Linked DNA regions of Homo sapiens: region 1 is linked to region 2. The links come from fine-mapping of genetic effects on gene expression. A gene starts in region 2. The other region holds a variant in brackets. All regions are shown on one strand. Distances are from middle to middle.

Evidence for each region. PIP is the estimated chance that this variant, and not a neighbour inherited with it, causes the effect.
Region 1: its variant is the best candidate, but not a certain one, in a credible set for the expression of ATP6V1B1 in unexposed skin (GTEx, PIP 0.79).

What each region holds. Positions count from the first base shown.
Region 1 is chr2:70,905,166-70,916,472 of GRCh38, forward strand. All of the region lies in intron 1 of VAX2 (ventral anterior homeobox 2), which reads left to right. Among named protein-coding and RNA genes, the nearest start is that of VAX2, 10 kb to the left of the region's middle. The variant A/G (reference allele first, on the strand shown) is at 5,351.
Region 2 is chr2:70,929,224-70,940,022 of GRCh38, forward strand. ATP6V1B1 (ATPase H+ transporting V1 subunit B1) reads left to right here and starts at 6,677. Exons shown (of 14, transcript NM_001692.4): 1 at 6,677-6,849. The coding sequence starts at 6,732. VAX2 (ventral anterior homeobox 2) reads left to right here. Exons shown (of 3, transcript NM_012476.3): 3 at 3,544-4,223. The coding sequence ends at 3,981. It also overlaps the pseudogene LOC124906188. RefSeq lists enhancers at 9,281-10,121, 10,122-10,799.

The DNA.
Region 1 (11,307 bases), 24 kb before region 2:
CAGGACTTTAGTCTCAATATCTGAGTCTGTTAATAGACCTGACAACCGAGGACCAGCCCCCAAGGCAGACGTGGAAAGGTGTAAATGGTTCATGCAAGGAATTGCACTTTGAGATTTTTGTATTTGTTTTATTTTTTGGTTTTAGCATTTGTAGAGGGTTTCTTTTTTGTTTGTTTGTTTTCTTGGAGTTGCTTTACGTTATTTTTTCCTTTTACTTGTTTTCGGCAGGAGGCCCACATTCCCATAGCGTGCCTATTCCTATGCCGGGCCCTCTCATTTGGGTCTTCTTTTGTTTCCCCCCCTTCCATAACCCTTACCCCCACAAACACACACTGAAGCAGACCAGCAACCCGAAAAATCATCTTGTAGGTGTGTCTTGTGTGCCCAGTTTTCATTTTCAGGGAACGGTTCAGGAAGATTAGACAGCTCCTTCCCTCCTCAGGCGATTTCTGTTCCCCGCCTGGTCTGGTAGACCCAGGAACCCATGGAACTGCCACCGCATCCCCTTGCCCCACACACCTGCATCTTCAGGGATGGTCCCCCAGGTAGCTTCTGGGGAGTCCGAGGGGCAAGGAGGCCAAATCCTTTGGAAGCCCGGACAAGGAGTGGGTACCTGGGGCTACAGGAAAGGGAGGAGATGGCAGTGGCATGCACCCGCAGTCAGTCAAAGCCACCGGGCTCAAGTCTTCCTCTTTTGCGCAGCACCGGTAAGGAGAGAGGGTGTCTATGCATCACGTTGGCCTGGGTGCCATTTCCCCAATTACCCCTTGGCTGCAGGCTCCCTTCTTGTTGGCTACATTTCTTTGATTTCTATTTTAATGGTGGGAGGTGGAGCATATGAATTTTGCCTATTTGCTCCTTGCTTAATATAAAATCACAAATAATGCTAGACCTGACTACCCTTGGAGAGCCAGTAGCCGGTTACCTGGCTGTGCATCTGCAGATTCTGTACCCCAGTTCAAGATACTCTGATAGAAGACACCAACGCTGCATGGGCCTGCCCACCAATCCCTGCGGCGAGACAGGTCTAGGAGGCTAGTTCATTCCTCATACCCCCAACCCAGCTCATCCGGGAAGGCAGTTGGGGGTTTCAGTGTCCTGGGTTCTCCCACTGTTGGTGGATGCTGACTGGGGACATTCAGCACTGCAGAAAGAGGTAGCAGCCCCAGGCTTGGATGTGGCCTACAGAGCCAGGGTGAATGCACCCGGAAAGTCAGGGTGAGTGCCAGACTGAAGGAGTGTGCTATAAGGCCCTGGCGGAGGCTTGGGCTTGTAAAGGCTCAGGGCCCTCCTTGAACCATCTCCCCCGTGGCCTTAACATCTTTTATTCTTTCTTTTTTTTTCTTTTCTTTTCCTTTTTTTTTTTTTTTTTTTTTTTTTTAGATAGAGTGGTTGCTCTGTTGCCCAGACTAGAGTGCAAGGGTGCAATCATAGTTCACTGTAACCTTGAACCTCTGGGCTCAAGCGATCCTCCCTCATCGACCTCCCAAAGTGCTGGATTACAGGACTGAGCTACCGCGCGTTTCTTGTTCTTTAACTTATTCTACAAACATTAATGCGTACTCACTGTGTGCCAGACTGATCCTGGCTCAAGCTGCTGGCACGCAGCTTCCCATAAATGTAAGCTGTTTCTGCCCAGCTCCCACAGTCAGGCCAGAAACAGCTGGGTAGAGACTTCCCCGCTGAAGTCGAGGGGGCGGGCTCCCCGAGCCTGCTTCCCTTGAAGCCAGGCAAAGACCACGTAGGAGGTGGTCACTGTGCCCACCAAATCCAGGCGATCTTCCCGGATGCTTTTAGTGCACTGTAGGCACTCAATAAATACTTCTCGAATAACTTAAATGGGACAAAATTCATCAACATGGCATAATTCTGTAGGTATTAATTAGGCGGCCAACGCCTTCTCCCGGAAGAACGTGTGTTCTAATATTATCTTATTTTTTGACGTTGCAATGTCCTTCTTATATGAAACAGTGATCATGGCAGAACATAGAATAATTGTTAAAGCATGAAGTTGACAACCCCATAGTTTCGAAATTTTGTTTCTGCAATCCGCAGCTTTGGGAAGCACTGAATTACAAAACCTGAAAACCCTCATATATGTGGCGGCTTAGAGGCCGGCCTAGGCTGGAGCGGAGGTCTTGGGAAGCGCTGGGCCGCTCGTAAAGTCAATGGTGAGTCTCCCGGCTTTCGGCTTTCGGCTTTCGGCGGCAGCCGGGTGTGAGGTTCCACGGGCAAAGCCAGCCAGAGGGTTGACAGAAATAACTGGATAAATCTGTGCCCCTGCCCCTGCCGGCTCACACGGCTGCAGCCCACGGCTGGAGCCAAAAATAACCGCGCAGTTGACGCCACGGTTTCTTTAGCGTCTTGCTGGAGACATTGACTTTCAGAGCCCCTGTCCCGCCTTCCATTCCCCACTACTTGGCAGCCCACCGCGTCCACCCGCGGAGCTGCGGAAGCCAGGGCCGGGCAAAGGACACTCTACGAGGCACAGCCTCCGGCAGGGCCACACTTACAATGTAGACAGGAAAATAGAGGATTTAAATTCAAAAAGTAATACGAGCTCGATTTTTTTAAAAACCGGAAGCAAAGAAGGATCCCAGGAACAGCCACTGTTTTCAATTCTGGGCGAGTCCTTCCAGGCGATTTTTCCACGCTCTTATAGACGAACAAATAAATAAAAGCAGAACTATATTTCATAGGCTGTTTTGCAATTTACCATTTCAAAAAAATTTAATCTGCAGTGATCATCTTCTCTGCTGAACCAGTTCTTGCTGTCCCTTGACTGTAGAATTAAGTATTCCTTTAGTTGGGGAAAGCCTAATTCCCCTAAAGACTGGAGGGACCTTGGGGTTGTTTTTCCTTAATATAAACACTGTGAAGTAAGCTCCGAAGGCAGGGTTCTTCTAGACCTTTGACTGTTTCTGTGGGATAAGTTTCTAGCAGTGTAATTACTGCTTCGAAAGATTTACACACACAATTTAAATATATTTCATTTACTGTAATAGGTAATTGTAAAATAGATAATTAATTCATCAAAACATCTTTTTTTCAGACATCAGGAGATGGGAGGTCTCACTATTTTGGGTTTAAGCTGGACTCAAGTGCTCACATAGCTGGGATTACAGGTGGGAGCCACTGCACTTTTTAAAAAGTATCCGGTGAAAAACCTCTCCCATCCCTGTCCCCATCACCCACTTCCCACCTGGTTCAAGGACTTTCTAATATGTCCTTCCAGATAATGTTTATGCCTATGGAAATCAGTGCAGTTATATAACTTTTTTCTTCCAATATATCTTGGGGTGTAAATAACTTTTTGTTTGTTTTTTTTATAGATGCATAATATTCCATTTAAGTGGACTAGGTGGATCATAATGTATATCATATAACCAGTACCCTATTTGTGGACATTTGGTTATTTTCTTATCTGTTGCTATTATATGTAATCCTGAAATAAATAAACTTGTTTCTTAGTCATTTCCACATGTGTGAGTATATCTGTCAGAGAAGTTCCTAAAAGTGAATTACTGGGTCAAATGGTATCTGTGTTTGAAATTTGCAAGATAATGCCCAATTGTTTGTCCTCCATAAGATGGAAGCAGTTTACACTGCCACCAGCGATGTCTGAAAGTGGTTGTTTCTCCAAAATTTGCCAGCACAGTTCACATTTTACATCCTGATGAACATAGTCAAGTTATTCTGCAGGAGAAGTTTAGTTACTTATGTCCACCCCTTTGCCCTGTCCCCACACTGGACATTTTGTATCATTTCATCTTTGTCGATCTTCATATTCATTAGCCAGTTGTATTTCTTCTATCTATTGATTCATTTCCTTTGACCAGTTTAATTTGCAAATATACCTTTTCCTTATTGATCTGTAGAAACTCTATGTATTGCTTTCAATATGTGTTGCAACATTTTAATTTACAATTTATCCTTTGATTTTGTTTAGGATGGTCTTTTGTTTTCAGAAGTATAAAATGTCTTTTTATTTTTATTATGTCATTATATTTATTTTTTAGAGACAAGGGCTCACTCTGTCACCCAGGCTGGAGTGCAGTGGCCCAACAATAGCACACTATAACCTTGAACTCCTGGCCTCAAGCAGTCCCCCCACCTCAGCCTCTGGAGTAACTGAGACTATAGGCACTCCCCACAATGCTGGCCTAGCTTTAATTTTTTATTTATTTTCTTTAATTTTTTATTTTTAATTTTTTTTAGTAGGGACAGGGTTTCACCATATTGAGGAGGCCAGTCTCAAACTCTTGGCCTCAAGCAATCCTCCCACCTGCGCCTCTCATAAAATATCTTTTTAATTACAAAAGCAATCCATACTATTTTGCTATGTCATGTAAAATTTAAAAGTTTCTAATTTCCCTTACATGATACACTTCCACTCCTAAGATTTACCTTCCAAACTTTACCTAGTAATTGAAAAATATAAATATGTAAGTTATATATTACAAAAATTGGATTTTTTTGCAATGACTTTTTTCTTAATTAAACAAATTGTCTTAGCTTGCAAGTAGAGTAAAAGAATATTTGTGGAAATCTTTCTTTCTAGAACTCCCTCATTCTTTTTAACCACTGTATAGGATTCCGTTATGTAGATATCATATAACTTATTTAACTAGTCCTCTATTAATGGATATTTAGGTTGGTTGTACTTTTTCATTATTACAAACAATGCTGTAGTGAACATCTTTGTATCCTAATTTGAACAAATGGTTTGTTTTATTTTTAATTATTCTTATCTTTTTATCCCAGGCAACACCTACCTCATTTATACCATAGAATGAGTGCTCCCTTGAACAAATGGTTTTTTTTAAATCTTATTTATGAGACAATTTGGAACATGTAAAACCAGGTGGGATATTTTATTATATTAAGGAATAATTGTCGATTTTTATTGTGATAATAGTATTATAGGTGACTTTTTTAAGAGTCCCCCCTTTTTAAGAGATACATGTTGAAATACTCATAAGTGAAATGTTATGACTTCTAGAATTTGCTAATAATTACAGCAGAATAGAAGAAAGAAGATTATTCCTGAGTTTCTAATAGTTGAAATTGGGGGATAGGTATATCGGAGCTCATTGTACTGCTCTCCCTAATTTTGTAAATATTTGAAATTTGTCATAATAAACTGTTTAAAGTAACAAGAATCATTTTACATATACATGGTATGAATATAATTACAGGATAAATTCCTAGAAGCAAACTTTTAAAATCCAAGGATATACATTTAAAGTTATGATAGTATTTCCAAATTTTATACCAAAACTCTTATATTGATTTATACTCTTAGCCATCTTGTATAAAAGTGTCATTTCTCTACGTCCTCCCAACTCAG[A/G]ATATACTTAATTTTTTAGAGTGAAATCTTTTCAAGTGACAGAATAATCTCATTTTATTAGTAGTTTAAATTGCTAGTGAGGTTAAGCATGTTTTTATGTAGTTATTCTTCATTTTAATATTCTCTTCTGTGAATTTTTCATATATTTAGCCATTTCTCTATCGGATCACTAATTGTTTTCTCATCTTCGTAAGTGCCACTTATATAGTAAGGAAATGAGCCCTTTTTCTGTGACATGTATTGCAAACAACTCCCAGGTCACTTTCTTAAAAAAAAAAACAAAACAAAACAAAAAACCCACAAAAAAACAGCAACAAAAAACTTTCTTTGTGGGATTTTTTTTTTTTCTAAACTGAAATTTAAACTCTAACCACATTTAATGGTTGTTCCTTTTTGGGCTTCTAGATTCTAGCTCCTAGTTAGAAAAATCTTCATCCAGCATTTAAAACATTATATATGCATACACAAACATATTAAAATGTTTGCTACCAAAAAAATTTTATTCCCTAGTCTTTTCACCAAAAGAAATAATAAAGAAAGACAAAAAATGAGTTGAATCTTTCCTCCCTGATCGGTTTCCACTCCTCAGAGGCAAGAGAAGAGTGAGGTGCTTCTTTTGCCAGACTTGTTCCTATGTGGTTACAAAAACACAAACACACACACAGAAAGAGTTTACTTTTACTGTTTTTTTAATATAAAAATGGGTTTATGCACACTTGCCATTTCACTTAGTAGTATACAATAAACATCCATCCAGGTTATGTGTCTCATTCTTGTTAATGTTTACATATAGCCAAAGTTATTACTAGACTGTGATTTTATCGACAATTTTCCTATTGATAAACATTCAGCTTTTCCCCCTTTTCTCCCTCTTGCAAACTATGCTACAAACAGTGGGTCTGTATTTATCAACTACGCCAACGTTTCTGTGTGATAGAAAGCTCTATAAAAATGCTGGGACAAAGGAACAGTGCATTTTAAGTTTAGCTAGGCATTATTCCTCTTCAAAAACCATATATTATATCAATTTATGTTCTTATTGAGAGAGCTTGAGAGAACCTAATTCTACTCAGCCTTGCCAGTACAATTTTCCAAATCTGATAGATAAAATATGGCATCTCAAAAAACAAGGATATCTCATTGCTGTTATAACTTTCATTTTTCTGATTCCTCTAGCCCGAGTATTTTTTCATATTTATTAACCACATGCATTTCTTCTTCTCTGAATAATTTGTTCGGTTTCCCACTGGACTGCTTGACTTTACTCACTGGTTTACAGAGGCTGTGTGTATACCAGACATTAGGACTCTGTTAAGAATTCATTATGAATATTTTCTCCCCATCTGTCTCTTACCCTGCAGATGCGTTTATTTTTAGGTACTCAAATATGTCATTTATTTTCCTTTCTAGAAAGTTATTTTATATTTGTTCTTCAATTTTTAGAGCTTTTATTTACATTTAAATTTGTGTTTATTTTTGCACACAGTGTGAGATAAATAGCTTTATTCCAAATAATGAACTAATTGTTCAAAAGCTATGTCTCTAATAACCCTGTCTTTCCTCCAACTAATTCAAAATACTGTCTTCCCAACATACCAGATCCACATAGACACATGAATTTGCTTCATAACTCTTGTGCAGCATTATACCATTTTAGTTGCTGTAGATTTGTAACATATTTGCTGTGTGGTAATGCAAGTATTCACTACTATTGTTTAACTTTTTTTGTTGACTATCCTTGCATTTTCAATGTTCCCAATAAACTTGAGAATGAATTTTCCATAAGGAATTTTTATAGCAATCACATTATATTTGTAGGTGGGGGCAGGAAGGGCCTTGCACACTTAAAAGTCAGCATATTATCGGCCAGGCATGGTGGCTCATGCCTGTAATCCCAGCACTTTGGGAGGCCAGAGGGGGCAGATCACTTGAGGTCAGGAGCTTGAAACCAGCCTGGGCAACATGGCGAAACCCCGTCCCTACTAAAAATACAAAAATTAGCCAGGCGCGGTGGTGGGCGCCTGTAATCCCATCTACTCAGGAGGCTGAGGGAGGAGAATCGCTTGAACCCGGGAGGCGGAGGTTGCAGTGAGCTGAGATCACGCCGTTGCACTCCAGCCTGGGTGACAGAGTGAGACTCCGTTTCAAAAAAAAGTCAGCACATTATCAGCTTATCGTGCAAAGAGACTACCTAGTGCTAGGTAGGAAAAGAAGTGAGATAGGGCTTTGGAGGTGGGGGGGATGTCTATTGGGAGAGGTGCCAGAGGGGCACCAGAGGTCAGAAGCATAAGCTAACTACTATCAGGCCGGGGGTCACCACCTCTCCCAAGCAAAGGCTCTTGGGCAGAATTCACCCTCCCACATACCCTCAGAGCTCACTGCTCTTTGAGGAGACTTGAGGGGTAGCAAAATGCAGGACTCATTTCATTTCACCCTAATAAGTGCCTACCTGCAAGGAAGCCCTGGAATGAAAGCTGTTCCTCTTTCCAGATGCTCCTCCCAAACTCCTCCTAGAAAAGGAGCAACTCAAAAAAAGAGGACTATTTTAGTAAGATAGGCTATATTTTGCTGCAGAGACAACCGCAAATTTTAGAGGCTTAACAAAACACAAATGCATTTATCACTCACAGAAGTCCATCACAAGTGGACAGGGGCTCATCCTGATACTCAGAAACCCAGGCTGGTAAAGCTTCTTCACTCCTGCTTCCAAGACCATCACAGTAGAAAGGGTGTGGCAACACACACACACTCTCTGGTTATTGGGTTTTGTTATTTAGGGCAGGGATGGTAATATCCCCTTATCTTATTTTATTGCCTTCCCAACACTCGTCTTTGCCTTACATATTTTTAAAATTTATTTTTTATTAGAAATAAATTGCTTGAAGGCCGGGTGCAGTGGCTTACGCCTGTAATCCCAGCACTTTGGGAGGCTGAGGCGGGGGGATCACTTGAGCCTTTTGAGACCAGTCTGGCCAACATGGTGAAACCCTGCCTCTACTAAAAATACAAAAATTAGCGGGCATGGTGGTGGGTGCCTGTAATCTCAACTACTCAGGAGGCGGATGCAGGAGAATCGTTCGAACCCAGGAGGCAGAGGTTGCCGTGAGCCAAGATCACGCCACTGCACTCTAGCCTGGGTGACAGAGCGAGACTCCGACTCAAAATAAATAAATAAATAAATAAATAAATAAATAAATAAATAAATAACTTTACATTTATTATCTGTCTCCCTCCCCAGTACAAGGTTTACAGGAACAAATGCTTTTCTCTTTTGCTCATTTCTGTATCCCCAGGCCCTAGAATAATATTTGACAAATAAGGGCTTATTAAATACATGTTGAATGGTTGAATATATTCAGTTGTTTTAATCTACATAAATGAGATTAAACTACATGTTATTCTGTAACTTACTTTCATACACTAATGTCTGTTCACATAGCTTATTGCCTCATTCTTTTCAATTATTACATGGTATTTTATAATACAAATGTACCACTATTTGTTCAGCCATTTCTCTTGTGGAAAATACTGAGGATGCTTTCAAATTTTTGGTGTTTTGAGCAGTGCAGCAACACACACCATTGTTGTATATACTTTGGAGCACCTGAGCCTGTGTTTCTCTAGGACAAATACCAACGAAAATAAAATCAGGCCAGGTGCGGTGGCTCATATCTGTAATCCCAGCATTTTGGGAGGCCAAGGTGGGTGGATCACTTGAGGTCAAGAGTTTGAGACCAGCCTGGCCAACATGGTGAAACCCTGTCTCTACTAAAAAATTACAAAAATTAGGGGGCGTGGTGATGGGCACCTGTAATCCCAGCTACTTGGGAGGCTGAGGCAGGAGAATCACTTGAACCCGGGAGGCGGAGGCTGCAGTGAGCATTGATATTGCACCACTGCACTCCAGCCTGAGCAACAGAGTGAGACTCTATCTCAAAAAATAAAATAAAATAATTGGAGCAAAAGTTATGTGCATCTTTAATCTTGATAAATGCAGCCTTAAAAGATGGACTCAATTATGGTTCTATTAATAGCGTATAGGAGTGTAGATTTCCCTACAGTGCACCATTGTTATTAATTGTCATCATTGTTTTTAATCACTTGTTAATGTCCTTTCAACCTTATGGGATATAAAGGGCTTTCCATTGTTGCTGGAACTTGTATTATATTGATTACTATAAAGCTATGCTTATCCTTTCATATGTTTATTGGCCATTTAGCTGTCTTTTTTTGTGAATGACCCAGATAAATTACTTGACCATTTATTTTATCAGGCTATTTACTTAAATTTTTTTTTTTTTTTTTGAGACAGAGTCTCACGGTATTGCCAGGCTGGAGTGCAACGGTGCGATCTTGGCTCACTGCAACCTCTCCCTCCCAGGTTCAAGTGATTCTCATGCCTCGGCCCCTGAGTAGCTGGGATTAGAGGCGCACGCCACCACACCCAGCTAATTTTTTTATTTTTAGTAAAGAAGAGGTTTCACCATGTTGCCCAGGCTGGTCTCCAATGCCTGGCCTCAAGTGATCTGCCCACCTCGGCCTCCCAAAGTGCTGGGATTACAGGCATGAGTTACCACAACCAGCCTCTTTGACTCTTAAATGTATTTTTTTTTTCAAATCTGTTTCTTGTACTTTACCTTGATTTTGGTGCTTTTGTCATCCAAGTTTTTAGCTTTAATATAGTCAAATACATCCTTTGTGTTTCCTTTACAGCCTCCAGTTTTTTTGCTGTTTGTTTTTTGTTTTTTTTGAGACCGAGTCTTGCTCTGTCTCCCAGGCTGGAGAGCAATGGCACAATCTCAGCTCACTGCAACTTCCCCTTCCCTGCCTCAGCCTCCCAAGTAGCTGGATTACAGGTGCCTGCCACCGCATCCAGCTAATTTTTGTATTTTTTAGTAGAGACGGAGTTTCGCCACGTTGGCCAGGCTGGTCTCGAACTCCTGACCTCAGGTGATCCACCTGCCTCAGCCTCCCAAAGTGCTGGGATTACAGGCGTGAGCCACCACGCCTAGCCTACAGCCTCCAGTTTTGCAGCTTGCTTAGAAATTTCATCCCAAGCCTAGCATTCTAAAAACATCCTCCTATATTTTTTTGTAATGCCCTTATAATTTTATCATCTATGATTTGGTCTTTAATCCAGTTGAAATGTGTTGTTATTTATGGAGCGAGATAGGAATTTAACTTAATTTTATTCCAAACATACAATTTATGGTCACCAATCTGCTTAACGTGACTTATTGACTAAATCACTCTTTTCCCATCTTGAATGCCCTTTTATGATAAACTCTATGACTATGGATACATGTGTCTAATATCCCCTTATCTTGTACTTCCCATGCTATTGTTTCCCCACATGCAGTCATTTGAGTCCCATCTTCATTTGTTATATTAATATTCCATTTATTTTCTTAATATTTTAGCATAATGCATTTTAAGATTAAATTTCCACTTTAGCCTCACCCTAAGCCTATAAAATTATAGGTTTAAATTTTTTTCTAGTAAACATTAAAATAAATGCCTAACTTTTTAAATGACATGCTTATTTATGTACAATTTTAAATCATCTTACAAACCATAAGTGGAATACAGAGACACTATCGTGTTTTTTCTACTAATGGATTTGTCAATTTCTGTGACAACACATCACTCTAGCTTTGTGGCATGCTTTTGTTGTCAACTTTTTATTTTGAAATAATTATAGACTCGCAAGGAGTTATAAAAATAGTACAGAGAAGTCCCATGTATCCATCACCTAGCTTCTCTGTAGATGGCATTTTACAAACCTATAGTACCTTATCAAAACCAGAAAATTGACATTAATACAATATAATTAACTAGACTACAGACCTTCCTCAGATTTCACCTGTTTTTCCTTGCACTGTTTTTTTGTTTTTTGTATATAGTTCTATGACATTTTATTACATATATAGATCCATGTCACCACCACCACAGCCATG
Region 2 (10,799 bases):
GGGAGGCTGTATGTGCCATTCCATTAACAAAACAGTCACCCCCCTCCTTCCTTTCTGCTATCCTGCCACCTTTCTCTAAAGCAGTGCCCCCCAGAGTATGGCCCTTGGGCCACTGCCAGCCCATAAACTGTTACCTGTCTATGACATGGTAAGTATAGAAATAAAGAATAGGTATTTAGAAAAGGCCTGGAGCGGTGGCTCATGCCTGTAATCCCAGCACTTTAGGAGGCCGAGGTGGGCAGATCACGAGGTCAGGAGTTCGAGACCAGCCTGGCCAACATGGTGAAACCCTGTCTCTAGCAAAAATACAAAAATTAGTTGGGTGTGATGGCACACGCCTATAATCCCAGCTACTCAGGAGGCTGAGGCAGGAGACTCACTTGAACCCCGGAGGTGGAAGTTGCAGTGAGCCGAGATCATGCCACTGCACTCCAGCCTGGGCTACAGAGTGAGACTCCATCTCAAAAAAAAAAAACAATGTATATAGCAATCTTTCCAGTAATTCATTTTAATTGTATTTTTTAAAGTATTGGTCCTCAACAAAATTGGACACTTTATAAAGTGGTCCTCACCTCAAATCATTTGAGAAACACGGCTCAAAGCCCTTGCTGCCAATTGACAGACAGGCTTGTTTGTGTTTGTTGTTCATCCTCTGCCTCCCCAACTCCACCGCCCACTCCACGTGGCAAGGATTCACTGGGCTTTGTTCACTGCTGATTCCCTGGGCCTCAATGTATATCTGGTGAGTGAATGAATGGATAAATGAAGCAATCAACCTCAAGTAGGTCTCATAACTTTCTGGTCACTTTTGATTATTGAATCTGCATCCGCCAGGTGCGGTGGTGTGCACCTGTAGTCCCAGAACTTGGGAGGCTGAGGCAAGAGGATCACTTGAGGCCAGGATTTTGAGGCTGCAGTGAGCTCTCATGACACTAGTGTACTGCAGCCCAGGCAGAAAACCAACACTTTGTCTCTAAAAACAAAAATAAAGAAATAAACTCAATCCAATGTCCTTCAAAACACCAACTCACATCTAGTTTAAATCTCATCTTCTCCTGAAGCCCCACACCTGCTTCCCCACTCAGAACAGCCTTGACTCACTGCTTGCCAGCAAGGTTTGAGGTTTGAGGAAAGCACATCTCACATAGGAGCATGAACACCCAGTCATCCTGCTGAAGAACTACAAAAGGACCCCTGCCCACTCTTTACCTCCTCCCAGTGCAGCCTCTGGAGGGGATTGTGATCTGTCTCAGTCACTTGCTCCCTCTTCCCCCAACAGCCACCTCCTCCAGGATCAGACGACAGGGGGTGGCTTCAAGGAGGCAGAGATCTTTTTAAAAGACTGGACATCTTCTGGTGTGAGGAGGGGAAGCACCAAGGCCTCACTTTCTGAAGGCCTTTGCTGAAGGGCCAGTCACTCCTAGCAGGTGGTGATGTCTGGCATGGCCCAGGTGGCCCAGTCTGTCTTGGCTCTGCCTGTCTTCTTAACCTGGGCAGCCCTCTGGCTCAAGCCTTCTCCTCCACCCATCTCTTGGCAACTTCTCAAAACCACAGCAGTTGCTGGACTATTAAATCTTCCAAAAGCTGGAAGGAACCAGCAAGGTCTTCCTGACCTTTTCTTATTGGGCCCTCCCCTCCACGGTTCTCACCCTCCCTGCCGGTACACCTGCCCCAGCTCCAGGCGAGGAGCAGGGTTGGCCTCTATGTTCCCAGGGAAACAAGTCTGGGTGCTCCCATGGTGGCCTCCATGACATGGGCCTGTAGATGCTGTGGCCTGATGAGTTTCTGGAGTGGGGCATGAATGCCAGTCTCTCCTTCTAGTGCCTACAAGTGATTCTTTTGGGCCCTCCCCCAACTTGCATCTGCAGGGCAGCACACCCTTCCTCCCATGAGGTTTTGTGGCCCCCAGGGGACTGAGCCTCAGCTTCCTGCCCAGTTCCCTTTCCTCATGTAGAGTAGGAAGGGGTTTGGAGCACTGGGTGTTGGGTAGTAGAGGCAGGGCCAGTTCTGCCTCCTCTCAGAGGCCCTGAAAAAGACCTCTTCCATGATTCTGGTGACTTTCTTCAGACTGTGGCACCTCTTTGTCCTCAGCTTTGAATGTGTGGCCAACAGAAGTCCCCCTCAACAACCTGCCACATCCAGTCACACTTGGTGTCACATTGAGAAACTTGGCCTTTATAGGTGATGGGGTAGGAGGGTGCTGCTAAAAACTTCAAACCGGGCAATGGCCAGATTGGGTTAGAAAGAGCTCCCTCCAAAGGCAGCGTGGCGGCCAGCATGGATGCAGAGACCTCACCATCCCCAGACAGGCATCTGGCCCCTCCTCTGGTCATGCCCCTCCCTACGGAATGAGGACTCTGCAAAGCCAAGGGGTCTCGCCTGCCAGAAGCCTGTGCCCACCTTTGAGACCACCCATCCCTGCCAACAAAGTGTCCAGTTTCAGAATTCCCCGCCAAATGGCCCTGAGCCACATCCGGCACCTGCCTGGGCCTCTCCAGGGTCAGTCTTCCCAAGGGCAGACCACAGACATTATTCAGCACTCCAGGCCCAAGAAGCGGCCAATGGGGGGCTATTTGCAGACTGTGAACAGGCTGGGGCAGCCACACACGTGTGGGTCAGAGCCAGGGTGGGCCATGAGCCAGAGGCTTCCATTTTTTCTCTTGCCCCAGCCCTCTAGATGTTACAGTTTAGACCTGGGGCAGAGACACCTTTAAAACACTGGCTTCTTCACCTTGGAATCACCTGGTGAGCTTTAAAAACTACTAAAGTCTGGGTCCCAGGTTCCCCCGTTCTGAGTTTATTGGTCCAAGGTGAGAAGTGAGTTAGGGGCTTAAAGCTCCCCAGGTTCTCATGGGCAGCCAGGGTCGAGAGGTGCTGCTGTAGAGACAATGCCACGGTCCAGGTCAGAGAGAACAAAGGGAGAGAGGAGGGTCTGTTCTAGGCAGCTGGGAGACAGGCTCCTGCATGAGTGAGTGGAGGCAGCCATGATGGAAGAGGGAGCGTGGGAAGCCTCTGTTTGGAGGACAGAGCTGCACATGTGGGGTTTGGGGTGTTTTTTGAGATATCCATGGGGAGATGTCTAGCAGGCAGGTGGATACATGGCCTGGATCTCAGTTCAGATCTCTGGGCCTGAGGTAGAGTTGGAATTACCAGCACATAAATGGTGGCTGAGGCTGTGAACTTGACTTTGAGCCAAGGGCATGTGGGCCAAGAGGAGAACATCAGTTGTACTCCCAAACTCCATTCTCTGTCTGTCGATCCATTCCTCCATCCTAGGCCAGAGTCAGTTTAGTAGTAGAGGGGCCTCCATAATTTGGGGGACCAGAGTCCCTAATCAGTTCGCCTACAGCAGGATGGTTGTGGGGAGACCTTAACAACAATCTGCTCTTCTTTCCCTCTTGCTCCACCCTCACACCCCACCCCCACCCCCATCCACCACCTGCCCCAACCCCATGCCCTTCCTCTCCTTTCCTCCTCCCACCTGCCCCCACTTTGCTTTGCCTGTCCCATCTCCCTCCTTGACACCCCCTCCCCCACCCCAAGGTGAAGGTCTGGTTCCAGAACCGCCGCACCAAGCAGAAGAAAGACCAGAGCAGAGACCTGGAGAAGCGGGCGTCCTCCTCAGCCTCCGAGGCCTTTGCCACCTCCAACATTCTGCGGCTGCTGGAGCAGGGCCGGCTGCTCTCTGTGCCCAGGGCCCCTAGCCTCCTGGCGCTGACCCCTAGCCTGCCAGGCCTACCTGCCAGCCACAGGGGCACCTCCTTAGGTGACCCCAGGAACTCCTCCCCACGCCTCAACCCGCTGTCCTCGGCCTCAGCGTCCCCCCCACTGCCGCCCCCTCTGCCAGCTGTCTGCTTTTCCTCGGCCCCGCTCCTGGATCTGCCTGCCGGCTACGAACTGGGTTCCTCGGCCTTCGAGCCATACAGCTGGCTAGAACGGAAAGTGGGCAGCGCCAGCAGCTGCAAGAAAGCTAACACTTAAGACTCCCACCCTGTGACACTGAGTCCCGAGCACAGCACCTTCCCAGTCTCCTGTGCCCCAGCGGACAGCACTGAGCAGGCCCCGGAGAGGAGGGGCTGCAGCCACACACTCTTCCCCACCTGCCCCCCAGCTCAGAGACTCGTGACCAAATGGCCTTGGTCCCGCAGCTTGTGTGCGTGAGTGCAGTGTGAGTGTGTGTGTCTCTCACTGAAATAAAAGGAAAACAATGACAAGAAGGGAAATGGTGCCCACAGCACAACTACTTACCCCTCAATCCCTTCTATCCCTCTTGTCACTGGAAGGGAAAATGGGCTTAGAGTCAGAGGGACCTCAGATGGGAGAGGGCAGAAACTGGGATTCTGGGGGTCAGGGGACTCACATGTGTCGGTCAGCAGGCACCTGATTCCCACTCAATAGAAGCCCATGGCACCAACACGAATTCTTTGGTTAAATGTTGCCCTTTACAAGCTCTCTTTCAAACATAAAAATACTTGAGAGAGGGAAACATTGTCACCTTGAAGAGGGTGAATGGTGAAAGGGGAGACCAGGTTGAGAGAGAGGGAGAGAGAGCATCAAAGCTAAACACAAGCAAGAGTCCAGATGTTTAGAGACGGCCTACCCATCACAAACTGCAACATGAAACCCTTTAAAATATCTATACACAGCCTGGCCAACATGGGGAAACTCCATCTCTACTCAAAATACAAAAATTAGCTGGGCATGGTGGCGGGCGCCTGTAATCTCAGCCACTCAGGAGGCTGAAGCAGGAGAATCGCTTGAACCCAGGAGGTGGAGGCTGCAGTGAGCCAAGATCATGCCTCTGCATTTCAGCCTGACAACAGAGGGAGACTCTGACTCAAAAAAAAAAAAAAATATATATATATATATACACACACACACACACACACACACACATACATATTATATATATTTCATATTGCTCAAACAATATAAATTTTTTTAAAGTTAAATAAGAGTCTTGCTCAAGACTCTTTTATTTAACTTTTTATTTTGCAGTAATTATAGATTTACAGGAAGCTGCAGAGATAGGACAGAGAAGTTCCTTCCATTGGCAGGAACTCAATAGTATGAGACAGATAGGCTTCATCTTCCCTAACTATAGTACAATATCAAAACTAGGAAATTGGCATTGGTACCGTGTGTGTGCATAGTGCCATGTCATTTTATAGATTCATGGACTCACTGCTGCAATCCAGATGCAGACCTGTTCCATCACCACAGAGATCTTCCTCATGCTGCTCCTTGATGGTCACACCCACCCCCGCCCTCCACAGGAGAGTTCTTTGAAAGGATGGGCATTAGGAACCAGAGACCTGAAATGGGTCCTCAGGAGGGAGGATGCGGGGTAAGATTTTGACTCTGTGAAGAGAAATAACAAGCACAGTCTCCTCCAGTCTGCTCTGAGAAACATAGTAGCTGCTGCTTTGGTTTCAAATTGGCTGTCCTGAGTCACCTGGAGTGGGTGCTTGGGGACAGTGATCCCTAGGCAAATGTACTTCTGCCGTTCCCTCTGCTCAGTGGTATGGTTTGGGGAGGAGCTTAGAAATGCAGAAATCCTGAGCCTAGAATGAGGCATGGGGGTGACTAGAAGACCTTGGGTTGGGCAGGTCCAGCTACCACCCAGGGTCCACCCTGCCTTGCCCAGAGGAACTGTACCACACTCCACTCACCAGGAGAAACCACAACTCTTAGTTTCATGACATGAAGAGAGAGTTCTTGGGAAGCAGTGGTGAGGTCTTGGGTGGAACCCAGGCCAGGCTGTGCACATAGTTTGATTTATAACTCCAGGTATTTAGTTATACAATACAGGGACCTCCATTTTACTTTCTGACCTGGGCTGGAAAGGTCAGGGCAGGCCTGCTGTATAGAAATCTGGAGGTGAATGTGAGAAGATGAGACACGGTTCTATGATCAGATGGAGAGAGACCAGCCCTCATTCTCAAGAACTCTCAATAGTATGAGACAGACAGGCTTCAGGAGACCCAGGTCTGTGGGTTGAGACACAGGCTCAGCTTTTGGGGGCTCACAGCCCAGTGGCAGGGACAAGAGAGGCCTCTCCTAAAGGGCATGACTTAGGAAAGAGGCTAGATGTGTAGTAAATCTTGGCTGCTAGAGAATCCAGAGAAGGCTTCATGTAGGAGATGGCACTGAGGCTGACCAGGAAATAATTCTCTACAGATGTTCAAAAAGATGACGATGGAATTGTCAGGGGGCAGAAGTATCCAGGTATAGTCAGGGCAAGGAGTGCAGGGTAAGGTCAGGTTGCGAGAACAGTGAAGAAAGGGCAGCCTGCCAGAAGTTGGGTGTGGAGAGACCAGAAAGAGCTGTGGTGAGGGACGAGTGTGGGAATGTTGACAGCACCTGATGGTCCAGGGGAGGAATTGAATTCATACAGTTTGGGGTTGGCGGGGAGGAACCGCCTAGCACAGAAGAAGGAAAAAGCCAGCCCTCCCCTCTTCCCTTCTCCCTCCACATCCTCCAGCTCTCAGGTGACGGGGGCCCCTCCCAGACCTGCACAGCTTGGTGTGGGGAAAGCTTGGGAGCCAGAGCCCCAGGCTTCCTTGTTTACTGTCAACCTAGAGGAGGAGGAGAGGGAGGGGAGGGGGAGAGGGGAGGGGTGGCTGCAGGGGAAGGCTGAGCAGCTCTCTCCAGCTCCAGCTGGACCTGAAGTCTCAGAGCTGCCACCAGCAGCAGGCTCAGACACTGGGCTCCCAGCTGGGGACTGCTCCATGGCCATGGAGATAGACAGCAGGCCTGGGGGGCTCCCCGGCAGTAGCTGCAACCTAGGTGCAGCCCGAGAACACATGCAGGCGGTCACCCGAAACTACATCACCCACCCCCGTGTCAGTGAGTAGCCCCTCCACCGTGACGGGTGAGGTCAGGGTGGGGAGCTGGGGTGGGCTGCCAGGTTCCCGGGCCCCGCTTCTTGCCTCAGAAAAGGAGGAGGACCCAAGACCTGGGGAGACCTGGAGGGCTCTCTGTCCAGCAGAGTGACGCAGTGGGGCCACCTGGACCAGAGGCCACCTCTGCAGGTGAAGGGTTGCAGGTCCCCAGCCCAGCCCACCCCAGAAGAGAGGGCTGGGGAGTAGCTGTCATCAGCCCAATCCTGCTGTAACACCCGAAGTCCAGAGATAGCTTCCAGTTGCCCCTGAGAGTGGGGTGTGCTGTGCACCTGCTCTTGTGTAAACGTGCCTGTGTGAGGAGTGTGCACCCAAGCACTCAGAGTCAGGCGGGGTGTGATTAAGTGTACTTGGAGTGGTGTGTGTGGCAGTGCAGAGTGTCAGCGCTCTCAGCCTGAGGAAATAGGTGCCCCGTGTGCGTCACATCAATGGGTGCATGTCGTATGTGTGTTCTGAGGAGGGTGCCTGTGTGCATAAGCAGGTAGGAGCATGTGCCTAGGGGGTGCTCCCACCTTCACTTGGGGTAAGGAAATGTGTGACTGCATGCTTATGCACTCAGGGCAAAGGTGTGTGTGTGTGCACTTAGGTGTGATGTACGTGTGTGCATGTGCACTCATGGAGAGAACACTTGTGTATGTGTTCTGGCAGTGTCACATATCTGAGTATGGTGAGTGTGTGTACAGCTGGGATAAGAATGCGTATCCAGGTGTGGGGCATGGAAGTGTCTACAGGTGCTGGGATGTACCCTTGTCAATTTCAGAGGGGAGGCCCTACTTGTGGCTCCTGTGCCTGTCCTGCAAGGGTGGCCCAGATGTCTGGGGCAAGGTCCAGAGGACCAAAGGGAACCCCTGCATCTCCTTGTCCAAGGTCACTCTCCCTGGCCTGGTGAATTCTCAGGCCGCCCTGCTCACTGGAGTAAACCAGCATGGCCCGCCACAGCTATGCAAAGCCAGAGGCTCACTGGAGTAAACCAGCATGGCCCGCCACAGCTATGCAGAGCCAGAGGCTCACTGGAGTAAACCAGCATGGCCCGCCACAGCTATGCAGAGCCAGAGGCTCCTAACAGGGAGTGTGGTGTGAGGGGAAGTGAGCCTGATGCAGCCACCCCACCTCCCTCTGTTCCTCTGTTGCTATCCAGGCCAGGAGAGGAGGTGGAGTGAACTCAGAGGGTAGCTGAGGGGTGAAATCAGAGTAAAGGGGCCCGGGGGCGCATGGGAGGAGAGCCCTGGGGTGTGGGGCACCTCCTGAGGCCTGAGGCAGGTGCTGAGGGTGGAGCACATTCCAGCTAAGAAGAAATGGTGAGAATGGGGTGGGTCAGATTTCTCAAGCAAGGCCTGTAGGCCCTGCCCCATGGAGCTCGGGGGAGGATAGGAGGTCCGGATACTCCCTAGGCCAAAGCTAGGGTCACCAAGGCCCAGAAATATGCAGTGACTGGGCCCCCTTGGGTCCAGAGCCCAGGCCTGGAGCCCTGAGCTGGCATGTGTGACTCTTGCCAGTCTGTTGTGATGAGCCCCACTCCCTGCAGGCCGTCCCTCCTCCCTGCAGGCACCCGGGAGTTGCTGGGTGCTGAGTGTGGTGTGTGATCTGCACCTTCATGCTCTGCTTTCCTTCTTCCTGGAAAGTGCCCCCACCTCCTGATACCCAGGGACCCTATAGGTACCATCTAACCCCACACTCCTCTGGGCAGGTTGGCCCAAGCCTGGAGCCACCTCCAGCCAGCTCTTTCCCACCCAGCCCCTTATGTATAGTCAACATGCCCTGGAGGTTCTGACCCAGGCTGGAACCCAGGGATGGCTGTGCCCGCCCCCCATGTTTGCATGCTTCCCTCGATGCTGGCTCTATATGGCCTCCACCCAGGAGAATGTGTTCACACCAAACAACCCAACAGTGGACCCAGAGCAAAGGTCAGTGCAGGGGAGCCCCTCTAGGCTCTGCTCCCTGCCAGCGCCTTTACTTTTGCTGCCTATCAAGTATCCTCACAGGATGCACCGGGCCAGCCTCAGCCCAGCCCAGATGCCCTCCCACCCCCAGGGGAAGGCTGGGATTCCTTGGTGTGTCCCTTCATCCACAGTGTCTCCCAATCCCCTCCCCGCCTCACTCACTTCCTCCTCAGGCTCTGGGAGTGGGAGGGATGAGGGGGGTGGTTCTCCCTGGGGCCTGTGGACAGGCGCAGGGCTGGCAAGGGTTTGGAAATTTAGGGCTGCACCCTCAGTACGCCAGAGGCAGGGCCACTCTGTCCCTCTCCACCTGTCTCCTCCCCAGCCTGGCCTCCTACCCTGGGTCTGTAAGCACTCCCAGACAGGAGAACTCTGGGAGAAAAGCTGGGGGTGCCTAAGGGCAGGGAGGCCCCAGTGCTCGCTGGGCCACGGTGGAGGTGAGTCCAGGTGACTTAGGCATTCCCCTCCCCCGGGGGAGGTGGGCTAAAGAGGCCTGAGACTTTAAGGCTGATTTCACTGCAGTGGCTGAGAGAGGATTGGCTAGAAAGGAGGAGACACTAGAAAGAGTGGAGGCAGCCTGGGGAGCTGACCCTGCCAACATCTACCTTGGGAAAGAAGGGTCCCCTGTGCCTCCCGTGGAGCTAGAATGGTTCCCCAAGGGCCTTGGCTCCCGGCTGGGGAGGAGGTATCCTGGAGCTTCATCTGTTTGGGCAGAAGATGTTGGGCTTGGAGGGTGGAGGTGCCCAGCAGGAGCAAAGGTCAGGAAGGACAAGCTGGCAGCCTGGTTGGAGGGATGAAGCCAGGTCAGATCCCTGAAGATCCCCCAGGAGCTTGAGTGCCAAACCACTGTCTTTGCCTCCCCACCTCGGTTTCCTCAACTGGAAGGGGAAGGAGTTACACGGAGAGAGTCCCAACAAGCAGGGTCTTGGGCTGAAGAGCCCTCAGCTTCCAGCCCCTGCCCTCCCTCCTCTAATCCCTCCAGCGGGATCAGGGAGGAGGTGCGGGACCTGCTGCCCCGGGCTTGCCCCCATCCCGGCCTCACGCATGGGCGCCTGTCTCAGCCCTCTCCCAGGACGCTGCAGGTGTGGCTGGGCCAGCGCTAATTAGTGGGCCGCGCGGGGGCCCCGCTGAGCCTTTGACAGAAAAGGCGGTAGGGAGGTGGGGGCAGGGAGGCGCTCCACCAGCCAGAAGTCCGGAGCGCAACCCAAAGTGTCAGCTAAGACAATGGAGAGGGGGTGGGCCGGGCAGCTGGAGGGAGTGTCTGCAAAGTCTCTGGAAGGCCCATGGAAGGAGCGCCCTTTGGGTCTTCTGATCCAGCCCTCTGCCTGTGGCAATGCACCCGCTTCCCTCTCCAGGGTCAAGGCGAACATCCCAGGGTTGCAGAGTGGGCCATAATCGCTGAGCGCTGCAGGATACCGTCTTGAACTGTGGTGCGTCCTGCCAGAAACTAGCCCACTTTCTGGGCCTCGTTTTGCCACTCCATGCAAGGGACACACGGAGGTAGGGGCGGCAGTGTACAAACAAAAGGACCGGCTTGCAGTCAAGGACACCTCTGTTGCTCAGCCCCCATTTTGGCTGTGTCCAAACCAAACAGCCTAGAAGAAAAGATCAGGCTGGCTTAACAGGGGAGAGGCAGAGCTCTAAGACATCTGACGGGAGAGACATCCCTCTAGGGTCCCAGTCTGTAGTACCGTGGGACAGCAGTGGGGAGAGGACCCAGTGGGCTGCAGTAGTCAGTCAAGGGCAAGGCCTTGAAGGATGGGCATAGTCCAATGCTGAACAGAAACAGCCGCCTAAGTGGATTATCTGCAATGATGGGTCCAGGCCATGAAGCGATGTGTTCACCCAGAGCCAGGCCTGGAGGCTGCGAGAAGCCCAGGAAGGCAACTCACAGCTGAGGCTGATGTGCTAAGATGTTGAGCTTCGATATCTCACCCCGGTCACCCGAGCGGCCTGGCCG